4 linked regions of the Homo sapiens genome follow. The protein of the gene in region 1 purifies or fractionates together with the protein of each later gene. This does not show direct contact. Each region holds a gene or a part of one and is shown in the gene's direction. Other genes may lie near its edges.

Region 1 (6,919 bases):
GAGTTTCTAACTCCAGCAAAAGTCCCAGGATTCACCCCTATTGGACTAATTCTGTCAATGCCCACTTCACTGTGGCCAGAGGCATTTGGAGTGCTAATTGGCTACAACTGAACCAGAGGAATACTTCGTGGAACCCACAGTTGAGCCCTTCTGAAAATCATGTGCTGCAGGTGAATTGAGGGAATGTGGTTTCCTAAAGGAAAACCCAGAAGTTTGCCAAAAGATGGGGTAAATGGATACTGGGTATAGAAAAGCAACAACTGTCCACTACAATTCCCAATTGCTCACAGAAAAAGACTCAGTAATGGGGCCTGTGGCGCAGACTAAATTGCATTAACAAGGTGCTGGTTCTTTCCAGGTCCTTCAGACATTTGCACAGATGCTGCTCCGTCTAGCCACACACAAACAGGACAGAGCAGTTGTGTCCTGTGATGGATATGAAGGCTGCTCTCCCAGCCTCCCAACTGCTCTGGCCTAGGGGACCCTATTTGTGATTTATTCAGTAATGGGTCTCATCCAGGCTACTCTCTTGGCCTCCTCAAGCTGTTTTTCCTCCTCCTGATATAAAAATAACACTTAAACAGGTTCCCCAACCCCATGTCCGAGACAAATCAGATCTCCAGAGATAGCAGCCAAATTCACCCTAGGGTCAGGGTGCAGGGTCCTTATTATATACCCAGTCTGCGAGTGAGCCAAGAAGTAGGGTTTCCAGAAATATGATGCCATGGCCAGAGGCTAAAATCAATCACCCGAGGAGTATTTATTACCCAACTGAAGCCAGTACCTCCTGCTGATTTGCCCTGCCAGACGATGAGTGGAGGCAGGCTTGTGGTCAGAGCAGGGTGGAGATCTGAGAGGCGAAAGGCAGGTGTAGGGTGAGAGAAGGGGCAAGGCAGAGCTCTTCTTGAAAACTGTGAAGTTGCTATGCTTTTAGTGTTGAGCAGTGCTGGTGTGTACCCCCAGCTGGAGTCCTCCTCCACCCCAACCTTGACAGCAGCAGGAGATGGCTACTGAAGGGTCAGAGCCCTCCCGTGCCTGCCTGCCTGCCTGCCTGCCTTCAAAGCCTCATGGTTGGAGGTATAGAGGGGGCAGGTCTGTGTCTTCCATAAAGCTTAGTGGTTATAAATGTGGTGCCTGAGTCTGGGTTTGATTCTTGGCTCCATCCCACTAGCTTTGAGATTTTGATCAAGTTACTTAATCTATTTATGCCTTGGTTTTGTCATCTGTAAAATTGTAATAGTCAAAGTATTTCCCTCACAGGGTTGCAAGGGATTACACAGGACATGGCATATAATGTGTTTTGCACAGTGTGTAGTAGACACTAAGCACTGCACGAACATGCAGGGTCATTATCTACATATGTAATTCCTAATCCTACCTCAATCCTGCAACGTAGATGTATTAGTTAGAGAGAGGCTTGGCTGCTATAACAAAGGTTCAATTTGTCGATCGTTTAAACAAGACAGAAATTTATTTATCTCTAACATAACAATCCAGAGGTAGGCAGACCAGGACAGGGGTGGGGGATGTTCTATCATTTTCAAACTGCATTTTCCATCGTTGGGTTCAGTTTGCTGCTCCGGCTCCCATCATCGTATTGTAATTCTAGCCAGTAAGAAAGGGTTCCCTTTCCTCCTAGGGGTACCCTTCTATCATATAATATATATGTATATAACATTGCTGCTCAAATTTCATGGTCAAACTTAGTCATATGGCCATACTATCTGCAAAAGAAGCTGTGAAATATAATCTTGCATTCAGTTAAAATTGTAGTGGTTTACTAACAGCAGAAGAAGGGTAGAAGAGATATTGCTCTACTAGAGCTCACCCATCTGGCCATCCCACACAAAAAACACAGTTACTGCCCTTCAAAAGGAGGCAAGTCAGAGTTCCATCTGAGTACGGCACCCAGCTGAGAGTCCAGGCTATCTGAGGGGTGGGCAGTTCCTTCTTCCAGGTAGATGGACACCCTATGGTCTGGTGACCTAAAAACTAACAGGCAGGTGATTTGCACCTCCTACTCCCCACAGACAACAGTGGAGGAAGAAGAGGGTAAGCTCAATTAAAACACTGACTCATGCTGAGCACACTGCTACGCGCCTATAGTCCCAGCTACTGAGATAGGAGGATCATTGAGCCCAGGAGTTTGAGACTAGCGTGGACAACATAGTGAGACACTGTCTCAAAAAAAAAAATCCACTTGCAACTGAAAGAATGGCAAACACCCAGCAGCTGCTGGATCTTAATTATCAAATCTGGTTGGGCAGGAATGGCTAAGCCCTTTCCTGGCAGTGGAGTAAGTTCTTGGTCAGCACATTTGACCACCCCTGGTTCTGCTCTCTGGGAAGATCTCCCCTTTCCACTCTCCTATGTAGCCTCTGGCTTTTCCTGCTGGGAAGCTGTTGTTTATCCAATATCCTTTGTCCCACACTGGCAAACTTGTGCTTTCTGCAGTCCTTCCAGCCTTCACAGCCCTCTTCCTGCTGGTGCGGATTTGGAGGGCTGGGAATAAGGCAAGGGAAGGGGTGTCAAACCAGGCTTTGCTGATCAGGCTTATGGTTTCTTTGCCAATACAACACCCTCACAATCTTAGAAGCCTTCTGAGTGGCTCCATGTTTGAGTAACCACAGCCAATGGCCTCATGTAGACCTTATTTTTATGCTTGAACACTCTGGACTTGGTGTTCTTCCTACTCTCCTTTCTCTCAAACTGGTGGTGGCTATCTTGAGTCCATTTGAAAAAACATGCTTGGTGTGAAGGAAATTCTCTTACACTGATCTCTGTCCTCTGAGCCAGTTCCCACTGTCCAGTGAGCAGATGTCCTTGAGAAAGGCTGGGGACCACAGGAACAGCCCTGGCCAAGGCTGTCCTCCCAACTCCATTCTCCTCCACCCTCCCCATTGGCAGAGTAGGAACATTGAGGGTTGATGGAAAACACATGTAATAAACTCAGACAGAAATTCACCAGTCTGTTGTTGAGTGTCCACTCCAGGGCCAGGGCTGGGATGGAAGAGGCTGGAAGGAGGAGAGAAAGGGAGGGGCAGAGAGAGGAAAGCCGGAGCAGCTGGGTCAGCATTCCCAATCCGGACATTGACTCAGGCTCCGGGAATGCCAAGGAAGAGGGTGGCAGCTACTGGAGCCAGGCTGGGATCCTGTTGGCACCAGGGATGTAGGCACAGCACTCACAGAGGGTTGGGGGCTGGGACACCTGCACACCCAGGCATATCTCCCAACCACAGGTGGAAACAGATGTCTCTTCCCCTGCGGGGAGCTCTGAGTGCTCCCCACGCCTTCGAGGTGATTCTCACAGCTCTTCACCTGCCTGAAACACCCACTCCATCTCCTTCACCTGAGAGAGGGACACACTCCAGGGACTCAAATCTGGACATCTGGACATACACTAGCTGCTCTCCTGGACTACCCACAAACCCCTTGCCTCATCTCCAGCCTCTGAGCTGGCTGCAACTTGCCCTTTCTAACTCCAGCACCACCCTCTACTGAAATTAGAACAAGGAAGAAAGTTATGCTGATCTGCCTCCATGTTCCCTTCTTTGGTGCCTGATAAAGATGAGGGAGGCTCTTGGAATAGGGGCTCAGGACTCTGAGAGCCCAACTCTGCTCAATGACCATGTTCCCACATGCTCCAAGCCACATCCCCTCAAAAAGGGTCCCTCTAGCTTGTCCTCAGTGACCCAGGAGGCAGCTGAGGACCAAGTACCCAGATTATCCGGTGCGCCCCTTCCCTCCCAGCAACCCCCAGCCTTCAGGGCTGTAGCAGCTGAGCAAATGGGGGCCCCTCCCTCTCATTGCCTGACACCCAATCAGAGAGAAACCGATCCTGGCAGGGCAGGGTGCCCGGGGCCGGGCCCAGAATAGTGCAGCCCAGCCACAGTGTCGCACACTTGCTCTCAGTTGGTCTGGGGCTGGCCACATGGAGCCCGGGCTGGAGCACGCACTGCGCAGGGTATGGGGGTCCCAGGGGAGCCGGAGCCGGGGCAGCTGAGGCCAGAAGATTGAGCGCACGGGCTGTGAATGTGTGTGTGGGCGTGTGTGTCTTCTGGTGTGTGTTTGGTCTGGATTTTCTCGTGAATATGGGCATGTGCATGTTTGGGCATATGTATTGTGAGTGTGTGTGGTTCTGTGTGCCTGGGAGTGTTTGGATGTGTGTGTTTCTGTGTGTGTTTGTGTATGGCTGCATGTCTGTGTATGGCGTGTGTCTGAGCGTGTGTATTGGTGTGCATGGGTGTGTAGGCGTGTGTTCAGGGAGAAGGGGTTTGGGAATGTAAGGCACTTTCCCCACTCCTTCAGAAACTCTTCTCCCCACAGACCCCTTCCTGGAGCAGCCTTGGGGGTTCTGAGCATCAAGGTAGGGAGAATGCCCCCTCCCTGGGGCCTAACCTCTTCCCCCACCTCCTTGTCCCCCACTTTTCTGGGACCCCAATTCCCTCCCAGCCTGGCTTTTATCTTCCTCCTTTTGGTCTTTCTTCCTCATTGTTCTTCCTCCTTTCCCCAGGTGTGTTTCCCTCACCTCCAATTTCCTCTTTTCAGAAGTGACTTTCCCACTTACTTGCTGTGTGATTTGCAGCAAATTGCTTAACCTCTCTGAATTTCTGGTCCCTCACTAGCAAAATAGGGATGATAATAATGCCTGCTTTATAAGGCTGCTGTAAGTTTTAAATGAGAAATATGTTGGAGAAAAGCCCATTGGAAGCTTGCAAATCCTAAAGATTATGAATAACATTTGAATTGATTTTGATGCATTACTCCCTATTAACCAAACAGGCCCCATTCCCCTTCCAGAGATGAGCTTCCTAGAGCAAGAAAACAGCAGCTCATGGCCATCACCAGCTGTGACCAGCAGCTCAGAAAGAATCCGTGGGAAACGGAGGGCCAAAGCCTTGAGATGGACAAGGCAGAAGTCGGTGGAGGAAGGGGAGCCACCAGGTCAGGGGGAAGGTGAGGCCAAGGCCAGTTCTGGGGAGGTGGGAGCCAGGGGAGTGGGAAATCCCAGAGGAGCCTGGGTCTGGTCTCTACCTCAGGTCCCTCCATAACACAGAGTTGGACCCAACCTTCATCTTGTGGCCTCAGTCTCCCTACATAGTAGAGAACAAGGCACTGCAGTGCCAGAGGCCAGCATGGCCAACTCAGAAAGATGGGACAGAGCCACTACCTGGGGCGACTCTCAGGTCAGCCCCTCACCTGCAAATAGGGCCACAGCATCCAGGCTTCCCACTGCTGCTGTGAGATGAATGGCGACAGCAGATGAGAACGTGCTTTGGAAGATGGAGTTACTGTCCTCTTCCCCTCCTCCCCCAAACAGGTCCCCGGTCCAGGCCAGCTGCTGAGTCCACCGGGCTGGAGGCCACATTCCCCAAGACCACACCCTTGGCTCAAGCTGATCCTGCCGGGGTGGGCACTCCACCAACAGGGTGGGACTGCCTCCCCTCTGACTGTACAGCCTCAGCTGCAGGCTCCAGCACAGATGATGTGGAGCTGGCCACGGAGTTCCCAGCCACAGAGGCCTGGGAGTGTGAGCTAGAAGGCCTGCTGGAAGAGAGGCCTGCCCTGTGCCTGTCCCCGCAGGCCCCATTTCCCAAGCTGGGCTGGGATGACGAACTGCGGAAACCCGGCGCCCAGATCTACATGCGCTTCATGCAGGAGCACACCTGCTACGATGCCATGGCAACTAGCTCCAAGCTAGTCATCTTCGACACCATGCTGGAGGTGAGGCCACGGCTCTGCCCAACCTGTACTCACTCTCCATCCACACGGTGCTGCAGCCGCCACTCCCACCCTGCAGGATGCCCTGCTGAGCCAGGTGCCCCTGCAAGCCCCCTGAAAGGACTCCTTCTTAGCACTATGGAGGCCAGTTGGGGGAGGGACAGCTTCTACTCTCTGTTAGCACACGTAATTGTCATCACAGCTCTGCCACTTAGTAGCTGTAGGACCTTGAGTTACATTACCTTTCTTGTCTCTAAAATGGGGATCGAAATGCCTGCTGCACCCTACATAGTTCAGAGGATTCTTGGACTACCCAGTATAAAGCGTGAACAAAGTATGTGTAAGACATTGCAGAGGCCGGGCACGGTGGCTCATGTCTGTAATCCCAGCACTTTAGGAGGTCGAGGTGGGCAAATCACAAGGTCAGGAGTTCGAGACCGGCCTGACCAACATGGTGAAACCCCATCTCTACTAAAAAAAAAAATACAAAAAATTAGCCGGCCGTGGTGGTGGGCGCCTGTAATCCCAGCTACTTTGGAGGCTGAGGTAGGCGAATCACTTGAACCCAGGAGGCAGAGGTTGCAGTGAGCCGAGATCGTGCCACTGCACTCCAGCCCGGGAGACAGTGCGAAATTCCATGTCAAAAAAAAAAAAAGGCATCACAGAGTGACTTAGAAAAAAGAGTAGGGGACTCTCTTGGTAACAGAAAAAATAATGAGCTCTGGCACCTGCTCTTCCATTAGGCTTAGCTATAAATGTCTATAATCTTATTCTTATCATTGTTATGCAGTGCAGTGTTTCCCAAAACACGGTGTATGTATTGTCCATAGCATGCATTTTGATTCTAATGGTTCGTGAAAAAATATGTCTATTTCAGTAGCTTTATATTTGTTTTAGGCTGTGTTAAAAAAATATAACCAGCATGTGCAGATAGTACTGCTTAGGACGGGGCACAAAATGAGTCAATATAAAATTTATCTACAAAAAAAGTATGTAAATATGCAAGTGTTATGTAAATAACTATGCCTCCGGTACTTAGTCTATCAAAAACTAGACTGTGTCTGTACACACATACCCTCCAAATGGAAACATGAACTTAGAATTTCTCACTCCCTGGTGTGCCAGGTGAGGGGCTCATGGTCTCAGGCCACAGCCTTATCTATGTACATGTCCCCAGCAACGATCATGTCTAGCGTGT
Region 2 (7,028 bases), on another chromosome or scaffold:
ATAAGCTTGATGTTCCCAAGCCATCCGAGTGTTTTCGCAGTTTCACTGCTGTGTGTGTGTGAGGCAGTAGCAGGTCCTGGTTAAGAGCACAGACTGAGGCCAAACTGAAGGCACTGAATGTGGACTCAGGCACTTACTGGCTGTGTGATTTAGGGCAATGTTTGTAGCTTTTTTGTGCTTCTATATCTTCATCTATAAAATAAGGATAAAAGGTATACTTCTTATCTCACAAGGTAGTTGTGAGGTTTTTGAGTTAATAAATGTAAAGCATTAAACAATAACTGTTACATAATACAGTAGTCCCGATTTACCCATGGGGAATATGTTCTAAGACCCCCAGAGGATGCCTGAAACTGCAGATTGTTCTGAACCCTTTATACACTTTTTTTCCCTATGCATACATATGTATGATAAAGCTGAATTTATGTTAAGCACAGTAAGAGATTAACAATGATAACTAATAATAAAACAGAACAATAATAACAATATGCCAGCATCACTACTGTTGGACTTTGGGGCCATTATTAAGTAAATTAAGGGTTACTTGAACACAAACTCTGTGATGCTGCAACAGTCAACCTGGTAACTGACCGCTACTAAGTGACTAATGGGCTGGCAATGTCTACAGCGTGGATATGCTGGGCAGAGGAGGGATAATTCACGTCCTGGGTGGGCTGGTGCAAGATTTCATCACTCTGCAGAATGGTATGCAATTTAAAACTTATGAATTGTTTATTTCTGGGGTCTTACATTTAATATTTTCAGACTATAGGTAACAGTGTGAAAAAAACCACGGATAAGAAGGGACTACTGTAAAGCACTGTGTCCTTGTGAGCTGTTGCTGCCATTGTGACAGCTGCCTACTGAAGAAGGCCAGGAAATGGTCAGCAGGTTCCTCAAACACAGTGTTCATAAATGGGGTTCCCTTTCTCCCCAGATGTGTATCTTGTCCAGTGTCCAGCCAGGAGCCTGGGATGTGTTTTCCCCATCCTGTTGTCCCTTTCTCCTGTTTACTTTTGGCATCGTTCTGCCACTGTCATCATGACTACCGTTTCCCTAAACTATGCCATCCCTCCCCACCTTGATGGTCATGCTAGCTTTGTCCTTCTACTTCTAGTCTTGCCCTCCTGTGATCCATTCTCCAGCACACAGGCAACATGATCTCCAAGGATGAGCATCTGCTTAAAGTCCTTCAGGGAGTGGTTTCGTGTTTCCTCTGGCATGAAAAGACTGATCCCCACGTGCTCTTTCCTGTTCTTCCCAGCCCAACACCTGCTCAACTCTGCTGCCGCTCCCTTTGTGTCCTTGCCAAAACACATTCTCCTCTCACCCCTCTTTACTCACTGACTCCTACTGAGCCTTCTGGTATCTGTGGAAATGACGCTGTCTCTGGAAGCTCTCCCTGATTTGTCAGTTAGGAGTTCTTCCTCTGTGCCTCTTTGGGGTTCCTCTTATAATGACACTCTTCCCAGGGTACTGTAGCTGTTCATTTTCTCTGCTGGATTGTGAGCTCAGGGAGCTACCATTTGAACTTTTTAGAAATATTCAAATGTGAGAGTTGGAAGGGTATTGCTGTTTGTAATATCTGAGGATGGGCTGAGCACTTAAGACATCTTGATTCAGAAGAGGAATGGCTGAATAGTTTGGTGACATAAAAATTTTCTTGAGCCCTAAGTAATTCCCCCCAGCTATATCAAAAAAGCAGCTCCAAGTTTGTAAGCTGTGAAATGTGTCATAGCTCAATACACAGAAAACGTAAACATGTTCCCTCAAAGTGTCTCTGAGGCGGTGTTTGAAACAGGTGTAGAGACCTTGAGCATTAGAATTGTAGGAGAAAGATGGTCAAGATCTTAATCAGTGCTTCTCTACCTAGGCTGCATGTGAGAATGGCCTGCAGCCTTAAACATATTTCTGCTGGATGTTAAATCCAAAGCTCTGAGTGGTGGAGATGGAGCTTTGGTATTCCTTCCCAGGTGAGTCTTACACACAGCCCAGGTGAAACAGCCTTCTACATGTTAGTCAATATTAATCATTAAGGAAAGAGGGGGGAAAGTAAAACTGTGAAGGTGTAGATTGAGCTTGAACTGAAAACAGTTCCCATCCACACACACCCGTGTGTGTCTGGAGAGGCTTCTGGGGGTCATGCTCCAAAAAGGGACACGTACCCATAGTAATCCAGTCCATATTTGGTTTATGTTGCCATTATGTAGCTATCTCATTTTGTGAAGTGGTTTTTGATGTACTAAGACAGCAGTTGGCTCATTGCATCCTAAAATTATTGCATCCCATGTAAAATGTCATTTTAAGATACCATGTAAACTGTTAAATTTTGCCTGTTGGCCTACCACTGCTTCTGGTATTGGAAATACATACTGGCCAGTTAGTTGCCTTCTGACTTGTTTATTTACAAAGCAAGGAGAGTAACCTGCCTCAGCCAGGGTGTCTGCGAGGGTGAGCCTTGTGGGAGTACCTACCGCTGTGGCATTGTGGGTGACCAAAGAGTAAATGAATTTGAATGGGGACTCTTTGGAAAAACAGATCTTCACCATAGAACATTTAAATGTTCAGAATGCCTAAGCTACACAAACCAGTGCTTTTTTAGTTGGTTGGGTTGAAAGAATTAAGTCCTAGGAGGATCTGAGTCAAGGTTCCTCTCTGCTGAGATATTTCTGTTGCAGGGGCTAGTCTGATGGGAATTAAAATCTTTCAGTTCAGCCTCTGTCTGTCTCTCCCCAGGGGAAACCACTATAAACGAAGCCACCATATCCTTCCAAAAATGTTCAAAAGAATCCTGCTTTAAATATGCTTCTGCCCTTTGCTTTTGTAACTTAACACACTGAAGATCCTCCCATAGGATCACAGACAGATCACTGCATCTATCTGACATGTTGTTTATCAGTATTCCCTAGGGTAGTAGTTGCTGGCACCCTGTCACCCCCTTCTCTAAGGGGGAATCTTTCTGCAATCTGTCTGATTTTTCCTTCCTTTGCTTCTTCACTGAGACTTTACTGAGTTTGCAGGCTCTTCTCCCACATTTTCTTCCACTTCTCTTGAGGCCTGCTGCTGGCCTCCATGCCAGAGAGATGACCATCACTCTTGGCAGGCTGAAGAAGGATGCCACAAAGCTGGGATAGCAAAGTTCAGTGATGAAATTAGAATCGGATATATCTTGACAGGCCAGAATCCAGCTAGTTGACATTTAACTGGGATAAATATAGAGTCTTGTGCACTGGTGTTAAAATAAAGAAAACCTGTAATAGTGTAATTTGAGAGAAGTTCTGTAAAGCATTATATAAATGTAGTTAACTATCCCTGAACTAACCTACTCCTGGAATGTAAGTTCTGGAAGAGACCTTAGTGTCAACATTCTTCATAGGCCCTCATTTACAGAGCTCCCTCTTTAGGCTAGGAAAGGCTCTTTGGTAAGTTTCTTTTTCTTTTTCTTTTTCTTTTTTTTAAGATGGAGTCTTGTTCTGTTGCCCAGGCTGGAGTGCAGTGGCACAATCTCGGCTCACTGCAACCTCTGCCTCCAGGGTTCACGCCATTCTCCTGCCTCAGCCTCCCGAGTAGCTGGGACTACAGGCACCCACCACCACGTCCAGCTAATTTTTTATATTTTTAGTAGAGACAGGGTTTCACCGTGTTAGCAAGGATGGTCTCGATCTCCTGACCTTGTGATCCGCCTGCCTCGGCCTCCCAAAGTGCTGGGATTACAGGCGTGAGCCACCGCGCCCAGCGTGTTTCAAATATAAAATGTGTTTTTTATTTTATTTTCTTGAGACAGAGTCTCGCTCTGTCCACCAGGCTGGAGTGCAGTGGCATGATCTCAGCTCACTGCAGCCTCTGCCTCCCCGGTTCAAGCGATTCTCCTGGCTTCAGCCTCCTGAGTAGCTCGGACTACAGGTGCGTGCCACCATGCCTGGCTAATTTTTGTATTTTTAGTAGAGATGGGGTTTCACCATGTTGGCCAGGATGGTCTTAATCTCTTGACCTCGTGATCCGCCCACCTCAGCCTCCCAAAGTGCTGGGATTACAGGTGTGAGCCACTGCACCCAGCCCATTTATTTTTTTGAAACAGAGTTTCACTCTTGTTGCCCAGGCTGGAATGCAATGGCGTGGTCTTGGCTCACTGCAGCCTCCGCTTCCCGTGTTCAAGTGATTCTCCTGTTTCAGCCTCCCAGGTAGCTGGGATTATAGGTGCCCGCCACCACACCCAGCTGATTTTTGTATTTTTATAGAGATGGGGTTTCATTATGTTGGCCAGGCTGGTCTCCAACTCCTGACCTCAGGTGATCCACCCGCCTCGGCCTCCCAAAGTGCTGGTATTACAGGCGTGAGCAGCCACGCCAGGCCCTCAAAGTATGTTTTAAAAACTGTAGATGAACTAAATTTTACTGCCCTGAAACAAGTAATTTGTTTTACTATTTGTTTACCATCCATATGCTAGGCACAAGGATAAAGCAGTGAGTGAGACTGGGAAGGAGACAGATACAGAAAGAAAAAATATTGGTGTCCACATAGGTGTGAAAACATGGGGATGTTCAGTGCAACTTAAGCATTCTGGCTTCACTGATGTAGGCAGTTGATGTTCTCACTAATACTCTTGTACAAACACAGTTGTAGTCCTCCCAGGCAGACATCTTCCTTAAGCCCCTTATACATAGAAACCACAGGACTATCAGATGAGTAATTTCTTTTTGCATATTCCCCAGTGTCAGATTTTTTTTTTTTTTTTTTTTTGAGACAGGGTCTGTCTCTGTCACCCAGGCTGGAGTGCAGTGGCACAATCTTGGCTCATTCCAGCCTCTGCCTCCTGGTTTCAAGCGATTCTTGTTCCTCAGCCTCCTGAGTAGCTGGGACCACAGGCGTGTGCCACCATGCTCAGCTAAGTTTTTTATTTTTACTAGAGACAGGGCTTCACCATGTTGACCAGGCTGGTCTCGAATTCCTGACCTCCAGTGATCTACCCGCCTCGGCCTCCCAAAGTGCTGGGATTACAGGCATGAGCCACCATGTCTGGCCCCCATTGTCAGATTTGAATTTTGATTGATTTAATTGCAGGCTTTGAGAACTGAAAAGGATCATTAGACAGCATCTTCTTTACCTTTCTTTAGTTAAATCTTATATATGCCATTTAAAATGTGTAGCTAAGGTCCAGTGCAGTGGTGCATGCCTGTAATCTCAGCACTTTGGGAGGCCGAGGAAAGTGGATCACTTGAGACCAGGAGTTCAAGACCAGCCTGGCCAACATGGCAAAACCCTGTCTCTACTAAAAATACAAAAATTAGCCAGGTGCAGTGGCGGACACCTGTATTCCCAGCTACTTGGGAGGCTGAGGCATGAGAATCGGTTGAGTGTGGGAGGCAGACTTTGCAGTAAGCCAAGATTGCACCACTGCACTCCAGCCTTGGCGACAGAGCAAGACTCTGTCTCAAAAGAAAGAAAAAAAGAAAGAAAATTTTTTTAAAAATGTGTAGCTAGGTTACCTATCAGAATAATATACTAGGGATCAGGAATCCTTGGTTATTTCTACTAACTAGTGAAAAAAAAAACAAACCTGGGCCAGGCCCTGTGGCTCACGCCTATAATCCCAGCACTTTGGGAGGCCGAGGCGGGTGGATCACTTGAAGTCAGGAGTTTGAGACCAGTCTGGCCAATGTGGTGAAACCCCGTCTCTACTGAAAATATGAAAATTAGCCAGGCGTGGTAGTGGGCACTTGTAGTCCCAGCTACTTGGGAGGCTGAGGCTGGAGAATCACTTGAACTGGGGAGGCAGAGGTTGCAATGAGCCGAGATGGTGCCACCACTGCACTCCAGCCTGGGTGACAGAGTAAGACTCTGTCTAAAAAAAAAAAAAAAAGGAAAGAAAGAAAGAAAAAACCTGGCTTTTCAGCACATCACTTTTCTGGGACTTAGTTCCTGCGTATGGAGAAAAACTCACAGTAGTATCTGGCATCTTAGATGGAAAAGTTATTTTTGTGGGATTGTCCTGTATTGAGCATTCCTGGCTAAATGAGTAGAGAATGAGTTCCCCACTCATTGTACTATTAAAACTACCCTTGCCCATTTCTTTTTTTCTTTTTCTTTTTCTTTTTTTTTTTTTGAGACAGAGTCTCGCTCTGTCGCCCAGGCTGGAGTGCAGTGGAGTGATCCTGGCTTGCTGCAGCCTCCACCTCCTGGGTTCTCCTGCCTCGGCCTCCTGAGTAGCTGGGATTACAGGCACATGCCACCAGGCCTAGCTAATTTTTGTATTTTTAGTGGAGACGGGGTTTCACCATGTTGGCCAGGCTGGTCTTGAACTCCTGATCTCAAGTGATCCACCCGTCTTGGCCTCCCAAAGTGCTGGGATTACAAGCGTGACCCACTGCGCCCGAACCCATTGCCTATTTCTTTTTTTTTTTTTGAGACGGAGTCTTGGCTCTGTCGCCAGGCTGGAGTGCAGTGGCGCGATCTTGGCTCACTGCAGCCTCCGCCTCCTGGGTTGAAGCAATTCTCCTGCCTCAGCCTCCCGAGTAGCTGAGACTACAGGTGCACGCCACCATGCCTGGCTAATTTTTGTGTTTTTAGTAGAGACGGGGTTTCACCATATTGGCCAGGATGGTCTCCATCTCTTGACCTTATGATCTGCCCACCTCGACCTCCCAAAGTGCTAGGATTATAGGCGTGAGCCACCGTGCCCGGCCGCCCCTTTCCCATTTCTGAAGAATGCAGAATAGCACTCCTGGTTGAGAACTACTGTCTTAATTTAATCTGATTCTAATAGTCTTTATCTTATTTTTGGATCCACTCTTCTCAGTTGTTAAAACACTGTCTTATTTGTGAGGGACTTTTACCTTTTTCAAATGCCATACATGTGTATGTATGCTCTTAGATAAGGAACTTGACTCAGCTACTATTATTTAAGAACCCACTATGCTCAAGAGATTGGATACAAATTATTCAGGATTACCAATTCTTGGTATTTGGAGTTGAAATCAGAATGTCACCGTATTAACCCAACATCGATCCCCAAACTGAGAACAAAAGGA
Region 3 (7,028 bases), on another chromosome or scaffold:
CTTTATACATCTGCTAATTTTGTAGTTAGGATATAACAAAAGAATATGACCTTTGAATTTATAAGATTTTTTCTGTGAAAATTGTTTATATCTGGGGTTGTCTCATTATGTATTCAATATGGAAATGGGATTATATACTTCACTATAATTCATAAAGGGAAAATAATAATTTGTTATACAGAGGCAGACAGTTTGATTTACTTAGTTTATTATTCAGCAAATAAATATTTGAGTACCAGCCAAATCTGTGGTAGGAGAAGAAAAATAGTCATGGCTCCTCTTCCAGTGTAGTGGGGGTATTGAGAAATAAATTATGTAATCACACAAACAGATGCAAAATGCAATGGTGATGAAGACAGTGCTGGAAATATATGCAATACCTTGAGAGTATAAATTAAGATTTAATTTTGTTGAGGGAGTCGGGGAAGGCTTTCTTGATGCTTGAATGAGATCTGAAAGTTGAGCAAGAGTTAACTTGGCAAAAGGTGGACTGGAAGACCATTATAGGCAAAGAAAGCAGTATTGGCAAAGTGATCAGCAGGGTGGAGTATGACAAATACAAGGAACTTAAGGAAGGCCAACGTGGCTAAAATGGAAACAGCAGTAGGAAATGCACTGCAAAATGGGACTGGAGAGATAGGTATGGTGGATATTCTCCGAAGACTCTCTTTCCCCTTCAAAGAACTATGTCTTCTGATATTCAGTTTCCTCCCCTTGAATCTGGGCTGATGCCATGACTTGATTTTGACCTCTAGAATAAGGTAGAAAATATGCTGAATGACTTTGGAGGGTAGGTCAGAAGAGGTTTTACAGCTTTTATCTTGGTCTTTTGTAAAGTACACTCTGGGGAAAGTAACTTGTCATGTAAGAAGTGGAACACTCTGAGACTGCCATGCTTTATGGAACCTGAAACTAGCCTGGTAGAGAGAAAGATGCCTGACCAGCCCTCAGACATGTGAAGGGAGATGCCATCTTGGATGCCAAGCTCAATTGAGCCTTCACATGACTCCAGCCTTAGCCAAATTCTTACTACAACCACATGTGGCCAACTTGTTCTGCAGCAACAGATGACCAGAATAATGAATATGAATCAGCCCATCCAGGATATTGTTGGTCATGTTAAGGAATATTGCCATAAGCAAAGGGATGACTGGATTAAATCTTTATTATTAGTTTTTAAACCACTCTATAGATTAGAGAATGAATTAGAGGATTGGCTAGAGTAGACAAGAATAGATGACTTCCTTGATTATTGTAATAATTCGGGCAATTTAACTGAACTATTTCAGTAGCTTGGACTCAGGTGGTGGTAGAGATGGAGAGATGAAGGATGATGTTAAGGAGGTGGATTGAACAGGGCTTGATGATGGATTGCACATGGAAGTGAGGGAGAAGTGTCAAGGGTATCTCCTAGAATTCTGGCTATGCAACGTCATGGTGTGATTACCAGAACACCAGAAGACGGAGAACACCAGAAGAGGACCGAGTTTTGGGGAACACGGATAATGAACTTAGTTTTAGACATGATGTATTTCAGATGCTTTCAAATATCCAAGAAGAGATGTGACAATTGGATCTACAGATCCCATTTCTGGCAAAATGGGACCTGTAGTGTAGATCCGGTTGTCATATCTCTTCTTAGTCCTCGTTTCTTAGGACTAAGAAACGGGGCCTGGGCTGAATATATAAAATTGTGTGTTATTTGCATATTGGTGATAGCTAAATACATGGATGTTGATTCAGAACTTCCCAGGGCCCTACCATAAGATGTGCTGTGATGGAACATACATGTGCTAAGGTAGTGATTAAAGCCTTCAGGCCAGAGGCCTCCAGTTTTTTTGGTTTTGTTTTTTTTTTCTTGAGACAGGTTCTTACTCTGTTGCTCAGGCCGGAGTGCAGTGGTATACTCATAGCTCACTGCAGTCTTGACCTCTCAGGCCCAACTAATCCTCCCACCTCAGTCTCCTGAGTAGCCACCACACTCGTCTAATTTTGTTGTATTTTTTATAGAGATGAGGTTTCACCAGCTTGCCCAGGCTGGTGTCAAACTCCTGGGCTCAAGCAATTTGCCTGCCTTGGCCTCCCAAAGTGCCAGGATTACAGGCATGAGCCACCACACCAGGCCCAGCGACCTCCAGTTCTAAGATGTCATACACATATTGTCATTTTCTCTGTGTACCACAGTGTGAAAAACTTTGAGGCGCTCCATATGAGATAACCTAGGGAGAAAGAGTAATCTAAGAAAAGGAGAAAGCCTGGACAAAGCTTTGAAAAACCTTCACATTTAATGACTAGGGAGAGGAAGGTGAATGTAGCTGCCGGCAAGGTGACAAAAACCAGGAGATGATAATATCACAGAGTCAAGAGCAAGAAAATACTTCAAGAAAGGAGTCTTCATGCAAAAGTTTAAGAAAGAGCAAAGATGGTAAGGACCAAAAATGTCTTTTGAAGTTAGTGTCATGGAGATCATTAGGGACTTTAGTGACAGTTGTTTATATTTGTTTATATTCAAGCTCTTTTTAAAGAATTGAAGAATTATCTATTTCCATCTAATGTAATATTCCAATGTACCTTTATTTTAATTGTAAACTGACCTCAAAGCAGCTTAACATAAATGAAAAGGTTAATATTCCTTTACTCTGAAGCTCATTTAGGTTTTCTATGAAGCGTAATTGTCATAATTGTGTTTTAGAAGACATTGCCATATCCTTTTCACCTTTAAAAAACATGTAATCTTGAAATTGCTTGAGAAAATGTTTTCAGTGAGTAGAAAAATAAAATAAATTGACTCCTGGTTTTGAGACATATCATTTAATATGTACTCTTATGCTTTCTTAGAAATCCTACAGTAAATAGGTTTATTTTTAGTGACTCTCATGTCCTATACCTGGAGAAATCTAAGGTTAGAGATAGTGTCTTAGTTTAAAGTTAGGTAAGGTCTTAGTTCATTTTTAACTATGTTCTACACTAGGCTAGACTTTTACTGAATTAAAGAGATTGAATACATTTTGGCAGTCTTTTAAATTGCTGAGTCTCCCTGCGTACTTGCAGAGTATAAGGTTGTCTGTGGATTGGCAGGAAGAGATGACACAGATCCAGGGACTCTTACCACATGCACAACCCATTGTAAGACTAGATTAAATTCTCACTTTACTTGCCAAGGATTCGGAAACCCACTGGAAGCCAGATTGTCACAATGAGGAGAAAAGGATGCAGGATATTTGAGAGCAGCTTCCTGAAGCTCCCCCAAGCCCCAGTAGAGTGTTCACCTGCTGTGATACTGAGCAAGCAGGGCCTTGGCAAATATGAGAAGCCTATTGTGCTATGCTAATGCTAATGCTCCATTTAAGGGAATTTTTTTCAAAATGGTTCTTGAATCAAAATTTGCTTCACTGAGGCCACATCCTCTTCAAGGAAAAATAGAGCCCACACATTGGTGAAATAGATCGGCTTCTAGCTTTCCAGTATGGTGGTGAGCTCATTTGCTGTTGTAGTCTTTTTGTCATTATTCTGTAGGCATCAGGCTCCAGGATTCTTATATTCTGTTTTATAATGCCCACATTTCCTTCTGTCTATACTGAGCATCTTTAAAATATTAAGAAATGTTTCATTCAGTCATCCTTTCAAATATTTGAATGCCTATTACAGTATTCCAGATGCTGGAGAGCTTACATTCCTGTGAGAGATACATACAGTAAGCGTTATAATTTCAGAGGGTGAAGAAAATAAAGCAACCTGTGAGGGTGGAGAGTAACTGTTTGGATGGCAAATGTTTGAGATGAGCGTCCAGGAAAGACAACTCAGAGATAGCAATCACCGAGAGACCTGAAACATGAGTTGGATCAGCCTTTGGAAGATTTACTGAAAGAGTGCTCCAGGCAACGGGAACAGCAAGTATAACACTTGCTATTTTAAAAACAAGGAGGAGGCTGGGCACTGCGGCTCATGCCTGTAGTCCCAGCTACTCATGAGCCTGATGCTGGAGGATCTCTTGAGCCCAGGAGCTTGAGGCTGCAGTGAGCTGCGATTGTGCCATTGTACTCCAGCCTGCGCAACAGAGTGAGACTCTGTCTCAAAAATAAATAAATAAATAAACAAAAACAAGGGACAGTGGGTTAGAGCATGGTGACTTAGAGGACAGCAGAAGAGGTAGAGGAGGTGCGAGGTGTAAATGAGGGAAGCCCAGGGGAGATTTCTATTCCACCTGCTGAAGAAGGGATTATGTCCTGAGGATAATGAGAAGCTATGGAGAGGTTGGAGCAAAGGAGAGACATGAAAACACTTTACTTTTTAAAAAAATCACCCTTGGTTGGCATGTGGAGGAGAACAGACTAATGAGACATGACACTAATCAGGATGCTGTTAGAGCAGAAGAGGCAACAGGGGACCAGGGTACAGGTGACAGAAGCACTGAGGTGTGGTTGGTGTCAGGATGTATTTTAAACAGGACTTGCTGATGGGTTGAGTCAGTGAAAAGAAAGGAATCACAAATCTCCAAAAATGACCCAACTAAGTAGGTACAAGGTTATATCTGAGATAGGCAAACAGGAGGAAGAGTTGGCCATGTGTTTGGGAGGTGGGAGAAGAACAGTGGAAGTCACTATTCTGTTTCAGTCATGTGGAGTTTGCAATACCTTTAGTTATTCAATTAGAAATGTGAATTAGGCAGTTTGTTGTACAAATCTGAGGTCTGAGAAAACTTGGGGTTGGAGAGCAAATTTCATTCAACAATTATTTATTAAATGTACAGTAGCATTTTCCTGGAGAGGGAGACGATGCTCTCAATTTCCTGTTTGTTTCCAAGGACTATGCAGACTCTTCAAGAATGTAAAACTTGTAGGGTAGAGCATTCTGTTAAAATTTTGGAAGGTTTGCCAAATGCATACAAATGTTAGCTAGATGGATATAGATATTGGAGAAGAAAGTTAACAGGAGGGATGTTCATAACTATCTTTGAGGGCAATAAACAGCTATCTGGGAAGTGATCTAAATGGAAACTGTAATACTTCCATTTGGGAAAAGCAGGTAACCCTGAATACACCTTGTGCTCAGGTGTTTTGTGTTTCTTTCTTTTTTTTTTTTTTTTTTTTTGAGACAGACTCTCACTCTGTTGCCCAGGCTGGAGTGCAGTGGCATGATCTCGGCTCACTGCAACCCCTACCTCCTAGGTTCAAGCAATTCTCCTTCCTCAGCCTCCCAAGTAGATGAGACTGCAGGTGCCTGCCACCACACTTGACTAATTTTTGTATTTTTAGGAGAGGTGGGGTTTCACCATGTTGGCCAGGCTGGTCTCGAGCTCCTGACCTCAAATGATCCACCCACCTTGGCCTCCCAAAGTGCTTGGATTACAGGCATGAGCCACCGCGCCTGGCCTGTGCTTCATTTTTAATGAGTAAGAGGTATTCAATAAATTGGGAATGGCATTCCATAGTAGCTCCTGAAAAGGAATACATTCTTCCTGCTGTTTCTGTTATTTTATGAGGGTTTCTATGCTTTTTTAGAAAAATTTTTGGTGGTAATGGGGGTGTGCAAAGGAGTTTATGTTGCTTTTGAACTTTTCTAGATTTTTTCTTTTCCAGTTGCTGTTGTAAAGTGAGTTCCTTTTCTTCTGTAAAAACCACAACAACCAAATGTGAAAAAAGCAAAAAGCATGGTTCCTTTTTCTGGACTTCAGGTGCATTGTGCAAGTATTGTGTAACTAACTCCCTTTAGAGTCCAGAGAAGGTCTGCCACCAGGTAGTGTTTGGCTTGGGAGACCTGAGGCTTTTTATCTCCGCCAGTTACTACCTGTTTGGCCTTGGAATCGTTACTTTACATCTCAGGGCCTCAGTTTCCCACATTTATCCAAGGAGTGGTGCATTATGTTTCCTTTGGCTTTTATATTTTATGACACAGTTGTTCTTAGGAAGCTGGACACACTTAGGAAAATATATCTATAAATTTACCTTTGGCTTTTATATTTTATGACACAGTTGTTCTTAGGAAGCTGGACACACTTAGGAAAATATATCTATAAATTTAAAATGTAGATGCTTGTTATCCTTTCTTATCTCACTCTTTTACTTCCAATGTCCCTCTTTCACCTAAATAGCTATTCCTTCCAGTATGCTTTTAGAAATGAGAAAGATAATATATTGAAGATTAAGGATGTTACATGACTCTTGTAAAAATTAGAAGCCCAACTAGCATGCACTGTTTTATTTCTCTGTAGAATATATTTGCATGTGTGTGCTGCATGATTGATTAGGGCATTTTATTCTAAGCATTTACTTCTAAAGGCAATGGCAAAATTTTTCTTCCTCTCATATTGAGATATTTAGGCTTGGTCAATCTGTAGTAAGGATTTTAAAACAGTGTACAAGAAAGCCCCGAATTTTTTGACATTTTTAACATGTGATTTCCACAGGGGGAGAATTTGGAAGACGGCATGTTACAATATGACATTTTATTGTTTGAGAGATTAAGTGCTAAGACTGACAATCCAGAGGAGAAACAATATAGAGAAATGATAGTGAGTAGACTTAAAGTGAGATTTTCAGACACCTTTTAGACCATTGGACATATCCAAATAAACATTGATTTCTATTAGCTGTATGGATTTTACAAACTAATATAAAGTTATTTTAAAGTTTTGTAACAAAAGCATTTTCCAAGTTTATAGAATTTGGTTGTCATGTTCTAGTTCTCTATATAAAATACCTTGCCAGGCTCAGCAAAAGTCGTATTTGGATTTGCTACCATCCCTTAATGAGGACATAGGTCATTATTAAAACTATCAGACATGCCTGAATACAAGATGACCTAAGTGGAAGCCATGTGGTCTTTTATGACCCAGCTTCAAAAGTCAAATATAATGTCATTTCTGCCATCCTCTATTTGTCAAAGCAGTTACAAATACCCAGATTCAAGACCTTACCTCTCAATGGGAGCAGTGCCAAAGAAGTTGTGGCTTTTTTGTAAAACCACCATAATAAGCCATGTCATATCCATAGAATGAAACAACATGATGCTGGAAAAGAAATTATTAA
Region 4 (6,595 bases), on another chromosome or scaffold:
GAAAAATTAGCTGGGTGTGGTGGTACTCACCTGTAATCCTCAGCTACTCGGGAGGCTGAGATGGGAGAATTGCTTAAACCTGGGAGGCAGAGTTTGCAGTGAGCCTAGATCATGCCATTGCACTCTACCTTAGGCAACAGAGCAAGACCCTGTTTCAAAAAAAAATAAAAAGAATATAATGTAGAATAATTAAATCAAGCTAGTTAACATATTCATTACCTCAAATACTTGACATTGTTTGTAGTGATAGGTTGGAGTTTTAAATCTGTGTATATCCAGGGGCAGGGGGTGAGAGGGCAATGCCGAAAGCTGAAAACCACCTTGAAGGAAAATGGTCATTTTCTGCCTTTGCTTCTTCTGTTGGGCGTTCCTTGATTATTCAAGTTGGGAGGGAAAACTAAAAAGTGTGTGTACATCAGTAAGGCGTCATTTCCCACACTAAAGCACTTTATTCAACAAACATTAAATTCCTATTATGTGCCAGCCATTCTTCTAGACGGTAGGACCGTATCAGGTGACAGAACAAAGTCCTGCCCTTGTGGACCTTTCCGTCTCATAAGGGAAGCCAGACAGTTTCTCCTTCCTGTGGTGGAAAGAGCTCTGGAGAAGAGTCAAGGTGAGGAGAATAGGGAGTATTGGGCAGCATGTACTCAAGAAGGCCTCGCAGATAAGGTAACATTTGAGAAAGCCCTGAAGGAAGTGAGGGGATGAGTAATGTGAATATCTGGGGAAGAGAACTTCTACATGGAGAGCACAGCGAAGGGCAAAGGCCAGGCAGGAACATACCTGGTGGATTGGAGGAGCAGCATGGGAGGCCTGTGTGACTGGAGCTGAAGGAGTGACGGGGAAGAGTTGTTGGAGGTGAGGTCGGAGATTTAGCTGAAACCAAGACCATGCATGCATGGCTTCTTGGAAGTTGAAAAGTACTGTGGTGTGAATAGTTGTTTCTCCCTAAAGTCTTTGTTGAAATCCTAACTCCTGAGATGATGGTGTTAGGAGGTGTGGCCATTTGGGAGATGAGTAGGTCATGAGGGCAGAGCCCTTTAAATGGGGTTAGTGCCCTTACCCAAGAGCACAGCACCGCACTGGAAATGAAGGATGCCCCTGCTGTGGTGTGCATAGGGTTTCTTTGCCCCCTGGCAGGTCTCATGTTGAAATTTGGTACCCCCAGACCCCCCCAACCCCCGCAAAAAAATTTGATCCCCAGTGTTGAAGGTGGGGCCTGGTGGGAGATGTTTGGATTATGGGGGCGGGTTTCTTGTGTATGGCTTGGTACCATTCTCATGGGAGTGAGTTCTCATGCTTTGTTTCTTCACTGACTGGCTGTTGAAAAGAGCCTGGCACCTCCTCTCTCATTTCCTCTCTGGCCACATGATTTCTGTACAGGTGGCTCCCCTTCGCCTTCCACCACGAATGCAAGCAGCCAGAAACCCTCTCCAGAAGCAGATGCTGCACCATGCTTGTATAGCCTGCAGACCTGTGGGCCAAACAAACCTCTTTTCTTCATAAATTACCCAGCCTCAGGTATTCCTTTAGAGCAACACAAACAGACTAAGACACCCGTGGAGACAGAGGCCTCCCAAGGTTCTTCTGCACTCACAGGACCAATCCTGCCACGCCTCTGACCATACTGAATTGCAGAGGCCTGGGTAACTGCCCTTAAAACTTTATAAGCTAGGATCATACTTATCCCCAAATAATTGTGGTAGAATTGGTGTCTGGGGGCATCCCTCATTTCAGGTATTGTGTTGGTTTTCTACTTGGTTTTCTACTTGTATTTGAAGCTACCACGAATTGGTCTTCACAGCATCTTGTTTGGACACTAATGATTGGATTCAGGGCCCACCCTAATATAATATGATCTCATCTTAACTTAGTTACATCTGCAAAGATCCTCTTTCCAAATTACCAGAGATTAGAACTTCAGCATATCTTTTTGTCAAATTCAGTTCAACCCACAACAGGTGCCTTGTTCTGGGTTTGATTATGATGAGAGTCTTCTGGGCTTAAATATGCTTGGGGACTGAGACAGGAATTATTGAAATACAGTTAGAAAGGTCCACTATGTTAGGGATGTCCTGTCCTGTTGGAATTTTTTCTTTTAAGAAATGTCTACTACGTTTATTTAAACTAATTAAAAATTTAAAGATGAAGGCAGTATCGTGGCACATGCCTCTAAGGCAAGAGGATTGCTGGAGCCCAGGAGTTTGAGGCCAGCCTGGGCAATATAACAAGACCCCATTTCTAGAAACAAAACAAAAATATAGATAGATATGTTAATTTGCATCATTGTTTGGAAACCTGAAGACTTTAGGATATGCAGTGGTAAAATTCATCAAAGTGTTAGAAAGCAGAGATTTTACAGAAGAAGGAATTTTTAAAGCTGAGAGGTATAGCCTGAGTTTGGCTGGGGAGTCTGGGTGGGAGGGCAGAAGAGCTCTTGCTGATGTTCCAAGTTGATGGTTTTGCCAGCTGTGGCAGCAAGTTGGCAGAGATTGAATGCAACAGACCAGAGTCCCTGGGCCCTGGCGGACTTTTGTAGGAGGAGAAGTGGGCTTATTCCATTCGCCTTTCCCCTGCATTCACATGGGGTCCACAGGGTGCCCAGGTGGTGTATGGCACCGAGCTATTGCTCCCCTCTTTGTGACACCCAGTGGACATACATTCTTTAGTGTGTGTCAGGGCTTACTAGTATTTGCCTTTTTTCAGCTCACCACAGTTAAAGTCTAAGAGTTGTTTATCGGCCTGGCACGGTGGCTCACCCCTGTAATCCCAACACTTTGGGAGGCCGAGGCGGGCAGATCACGAGGTCAGGAGTTTGAGACCAGCTTGGCTAACACAGTGAAACCCCATCTCTACTAAAAATAGAAAAAATTAGCCAGCGTGGTGGTGTGTGCCTGTAATCCCAACTACTTGGGAGGCTGAGGCGGGAGAATCGTGTGAACCCGGGAGGCGGAGGTTGCAGTGAGCCGAGATGGCGCCATTGCACTCCAGCCTGGGCAACAGTGCGAGATTCCGTCTCAAAAAAAAAAAAAAGAGTTGTTTATCAAAGGAAGTTTAAATTCCCACTCTGATATCACAGTGATAGGACTGTATTTGGTTTAGCAATGTAATTAAAATTCCTTAGCAGCAGTATGCATTTGCAGGCATTGGATTGAATGGTTATCATGGTCACCATGAGTTGGAGTTTTGCTCTTGTTGCCCAGGCTGGAGTGCGATGGCATGGCCTTGGCTCACTGCAGCCTCCGCCTCCTGGGTTCAAGTGATTCTCCTGCCTCAGCCCCTAAGTAGCTGGGATTACAGGTGCCCCCACCACACCTGTCTAATTTTTTTGTAGAGACAGGGTTTTGCCATGTTGGCCAGGCTGGTCTTAAACTCCTGGCCTCAGGTGATCTGCCCGCCTTGGCCTCCCAAAGTGTTGGGATTATAGGCATGAGCCACTGTGTCTGGCCATGAGTTTTTATGGAGCTCCTGTTGTGTTCCAAGGAATTCTCTGCAACTTAGGACAGATGGGAGATGAGTAAAGAGGGTTCTTTCTAGCCTTAAGGAAATTTGAAGCAAGGAGAGGACAGACAGGAATCAGAGGTTCACGGAAGAACTGATAAAGATTTGTGTATGCCACATTTGGCTTCTGTAGGAAAAAGCCTCTATATGTATCATTTAATAAATAGCTAAGCGCGGTGGCTCACGCCTGTAATGCCAGCACTTTGGGAGACCGAGGAGGGAGGATCGCTTGGGTCCAGGAGTTTGAGATCAGCCTGGGCAATACAAAAAATAAAAAATTGAAGTTTCTCATTTCTACAAAAAAAAAAAAAAAATTAGCCGGGCATGGTGGTACACATCTATAGTCCCAGTGCACCTAGAGTCCCAGCTACTTGGGCTGAGGTGGGAGGTAGAGGCTACAGTGAACCGTGATTGCACCATTGCACTCTGAGCTGAGACCTTGTCTCAAAAATAAATAAAACATACAAACAACTAATTAATTGGACAGAGAGCTCACTTGTCCTCTGCCCTAAACTCTCCCTGCTTCCCTGAGTCCTGTGGGCACTTTAATGGGTGGAACAGAATCAACAGGTGCTTGGGTGAAGGGGGTGGAGGTGAGAGAAGGGCCTGGGCTGCCTGGTGACTGTATTACTGGTTCCAGTGTGGCTCAGTCACATATGCCCTGGGAGGTGATAATTTTGAGTATTCCCTCAGGACATGAATAGTATTCCTCTAAAACGGAGGCTTCATTTCATGTCTGTTAACTGGGAATACAGCCACAACTATGTCCTCGGGGCAAGGACCACTGGTAAAACCACCATACTTCTGGGGTGAGCACAGGGCAAATAATGTACAGACATCATTTCCTTTGACTAATCTTTGAAATCTTGGCTCCTGAAAGTAGTGAAAGTTCTTTGTCTAAGCCGAGATTTTTAATTTAGGACCCAGATGGAGTAGAAGGTAAGCCTCCAAAAGGTCTGCTTTCCTCAGTGTTTTAGTGTCCCAGATTCCTGGCAGGCAGCAGTCTCATTAGAAAAGCAGATTGCCTTCTGACTCACCCACTCAGTGCGATGCGAGACAGCCCCACAGCCCTCACAGCAGCCCATATTCCTGCTGGACAGGGCAGAGCGTGCACCATCCATTTTATAGCTGCAGTGGCTACAGACGCCTGGCCCAGGCCATGGAAAACCTTGAGAGGAGATAGTCTGTTACGGACAGGAGCTTTGTCCTGGAATTTCCTGGCCTTTGTCTGTCTGGGATAACTTCATGTACTGAGACGCCTGTTTTTTAGAGTCTTCTTCCTTCTGGGGGAAGAGTGCTACTGCCTGTCCTCCACAGAGCACTTTTGCTTCTACCAAAGCCATCTTCTCCCTGCTGCCTGCCCGTGATCACCCATGGTTCGGAGGTGAGGGGAGCACTGTGGGCAGGTGTGTGTACCTGGCTTGCAGTATACTCCTGAAAGTTGCCTGTCACAAAGGAAAAGCCATAACCATTGGACATCAAAGCTGTGTCTTCCAGCCCGGCCCATTCACTCTGGTCCTAACCTTTGTCTGTCTCTCATATTGCAGCAGAAAAAGTCCTACCTGGAGCGAAGCGTTAAGGAAGCTGAGGACAACATCCGGGAGATGCTGATGGCACGAAGGGCCCAGTAGGGAGCCTCTCTGGGAAGCTCTTCCTCCTGCCCCTCCCATTCCTGGTGGGGGCAGAGGAGTGTCTGCAGGGAAACAGCTTCTCCTCTGCCCCGATGGATGCTTTATTTGGATGGCCTGGCAACATCACATTTTCTGCATCACCCTGAGCCCCATTTGCTTCCCAGCCCTGGAGTTTTTACCCGGCTTTGCCTGCCACCTCTGCCCAGGACACTCTTCCCTCTCGGGATGTGTGATGAACTCCCAGGAGAGGGAAGATGGGAGCCAGGGCAAGATAGGAAGCTCTGCCTGAGCTTTCCACTAGGCACGCCAGCCAGACCAATAAAAAGCGTCTGTCCCACTCTGCTAAGCCTGGTTTTCTTGAGCAGAGGGATGGAACAGAGGGTGAGAGAGGCAGTGGCCGTCTCCACCTCAGCTCCTGCTCCCTCTGCATCAGAGCCCTTCCTTTCTTGGGGGATGGGCCTTGCCCTCTTCTCTTTTCCCTTCCTGTACCTTTGACTAACGCTCAGCTTCCGGGCCTGCATGCAGTAGACAGAAGAGGAAGAAAGAACAGATGTTCACAGCTGAATCTCAGTGAACAGAATAGCAGTCCCTGGATGGCAGTCTGCCTAAAGATTCCTTTCCCTGCCTTCTCCCATACATTCCAAAAGGAAGTTCAACAGTAAGCAGCACCTCCAAGACTGTCTCCTTTTGGCCAATATCATAAGATGGACGCCATAATCCTGAGGCCTCCTAGAGGCTGAGGGGGCAACGGTGTGATCCAGCTGGCTCATCCCAGCCCAGGTGGGCCAATTATTCAATTTTCAAGAATTTTGTTGCAAGCCAGTTGTCAAACACAGCCATTATAATTATGTAAATTTGCAAATTATGTTAAAAACAAGGACAATAAATATTCAAAATGCATCCCTAATTACTACATTTGACCACGATCTGTGCTCTATCTGTGCACTGACTGTGATCTGTGAGGTTGGCTCTGTTGTGTCTGGGTGGTAGAAATCCCACATGATGTCAGGTCCTGTGCTGCCCTTCCCAGCTCCAGTCAGTGACATCACATTGGTAACTTGAAATCAGCCATGGCATGGTGAGAACACGTACACCACAGAAATAAGACACAGGACATCAGAAATAAGACACAGGACATGCAACAAAACATGGCTTTTTTTTTTTTTTTAAAGAGAGCACCGGTAAACATTTATCAGCACGTCCACTGCTTCGGAGGGAAGGCAGAGTCGGCAGGGAGCTAGCTGTCAGCTGCGGCTTCTCGGGCTGGCTGGGCTGGGCGGGCCAGCTGATGGAGGAAAATCGGACTTGCTGCTATGGCAGCCTGGCGCCACCCTGTGGCCAAATATGAGATGAGTGGCACGGCTGACGAGCTGGGGTGAGGGGTGAGGGGACATCCAGAAGGGAAAACTTCAGCCAGGAGCGGTGGCTCACGCCTGTAATCCCAGCATTTTGGGAGGCCG

Evidence for each region.
Region 2: the proteins of PRKAG3 (region 1) and CLTCL1 purify together in Homo sapiens (affinity purification with mass spectrometry; 2 studies listed by BioGRID and IntAct, with this or other methods). This does not show direct contact.
Region 3: the proteins of PRKAG3 (region 1) and PIP4P2 purify together in Homo sapiens (affinity purification with mass spectrometry; 3 studies listed by BioGRID and IntAct, with this or other methods). This does not show direct contact.
Region 4: the proteins of PRKAG3 (region 1) and PFDN1 purify together in Homo sapiens (affinity purification with mass spectrometry; 4 studies listed by BioGRID and IntAct, with this or other methods). This does not show direct contact.

What each region holds. Positions count from the first base shown.
Region 1 is NC_000002.12:218,828,783-218,835,701, reverse strand, and holds the start of PRKAG3 (5'-AMP-activated protein kinase subunit gamma-3), read left to right. Parts: upstream 1-3,898; 5' UTR 3,899-3,931; coding exon 3,932-3,964; intron 3,965-4,326; coding exon 4,327-4,366; intron 4,367-4,800; coding exon 4,801-4,956; intron 4,957-5,320; coding exon 5,321-5,724; intron 5,725-6,919. UniProt on the Homo sapiens protein: AMP/ATP-binding subunit of AMP-activated protein kinase (AMPK), an energy sensor protein kinase that plays a key role in regulating cellular energy metabolism.
Region 2 is NC_000022.11:19,281,704-19,288,731, reverse strand, and holds part of CLTCL1 (clathrin heavy chain 2), read left to right. Parts: intron 1-7,028. UniProt on the Homo sapiens protein: Clathrin is the major protein of the polyhedral coat of coated pits and vesicles. Two different adapter protein complexes link the clathrin lattice either to the plasma membrane or to the trans-Golgi network.
Region 3 is NC_000008.11:91,030,844-91,037,871, reverse strand, and holds part of PIP4P2 (type 2 phosphatidylinositol 4,5-bisphosphate 4-phosphatase), read left to right. Parts: intron 1-7,028. UniProt on the Homo sapiens protein: Catalyzes the hydrolysis of phosphatidylinositol-4,5-bisphosphate (PtdIns-4,5-P2) to phosphatidylinositol-4-phosphate (PtdIns-4-P).
Region 4 is NC_000005.10:140,244,514-140,251,108, reverse strand, and holds the end of PFDN1 (prefoldin subunit 1), read left to right. Parts: intron 1-5,051; coding exon 5,052-5,135; 3' UTR 5,136-6,074; downstream 6,075-6,595. UniProt on the Homo sapiens protein: Binds specifically to cytosolic chaperonin (c-CPN) and transfers target proteins to it. Binds to nascent polypeptide chain and promotes folding in an environment in which there are many competing pathways for nonnative proteins.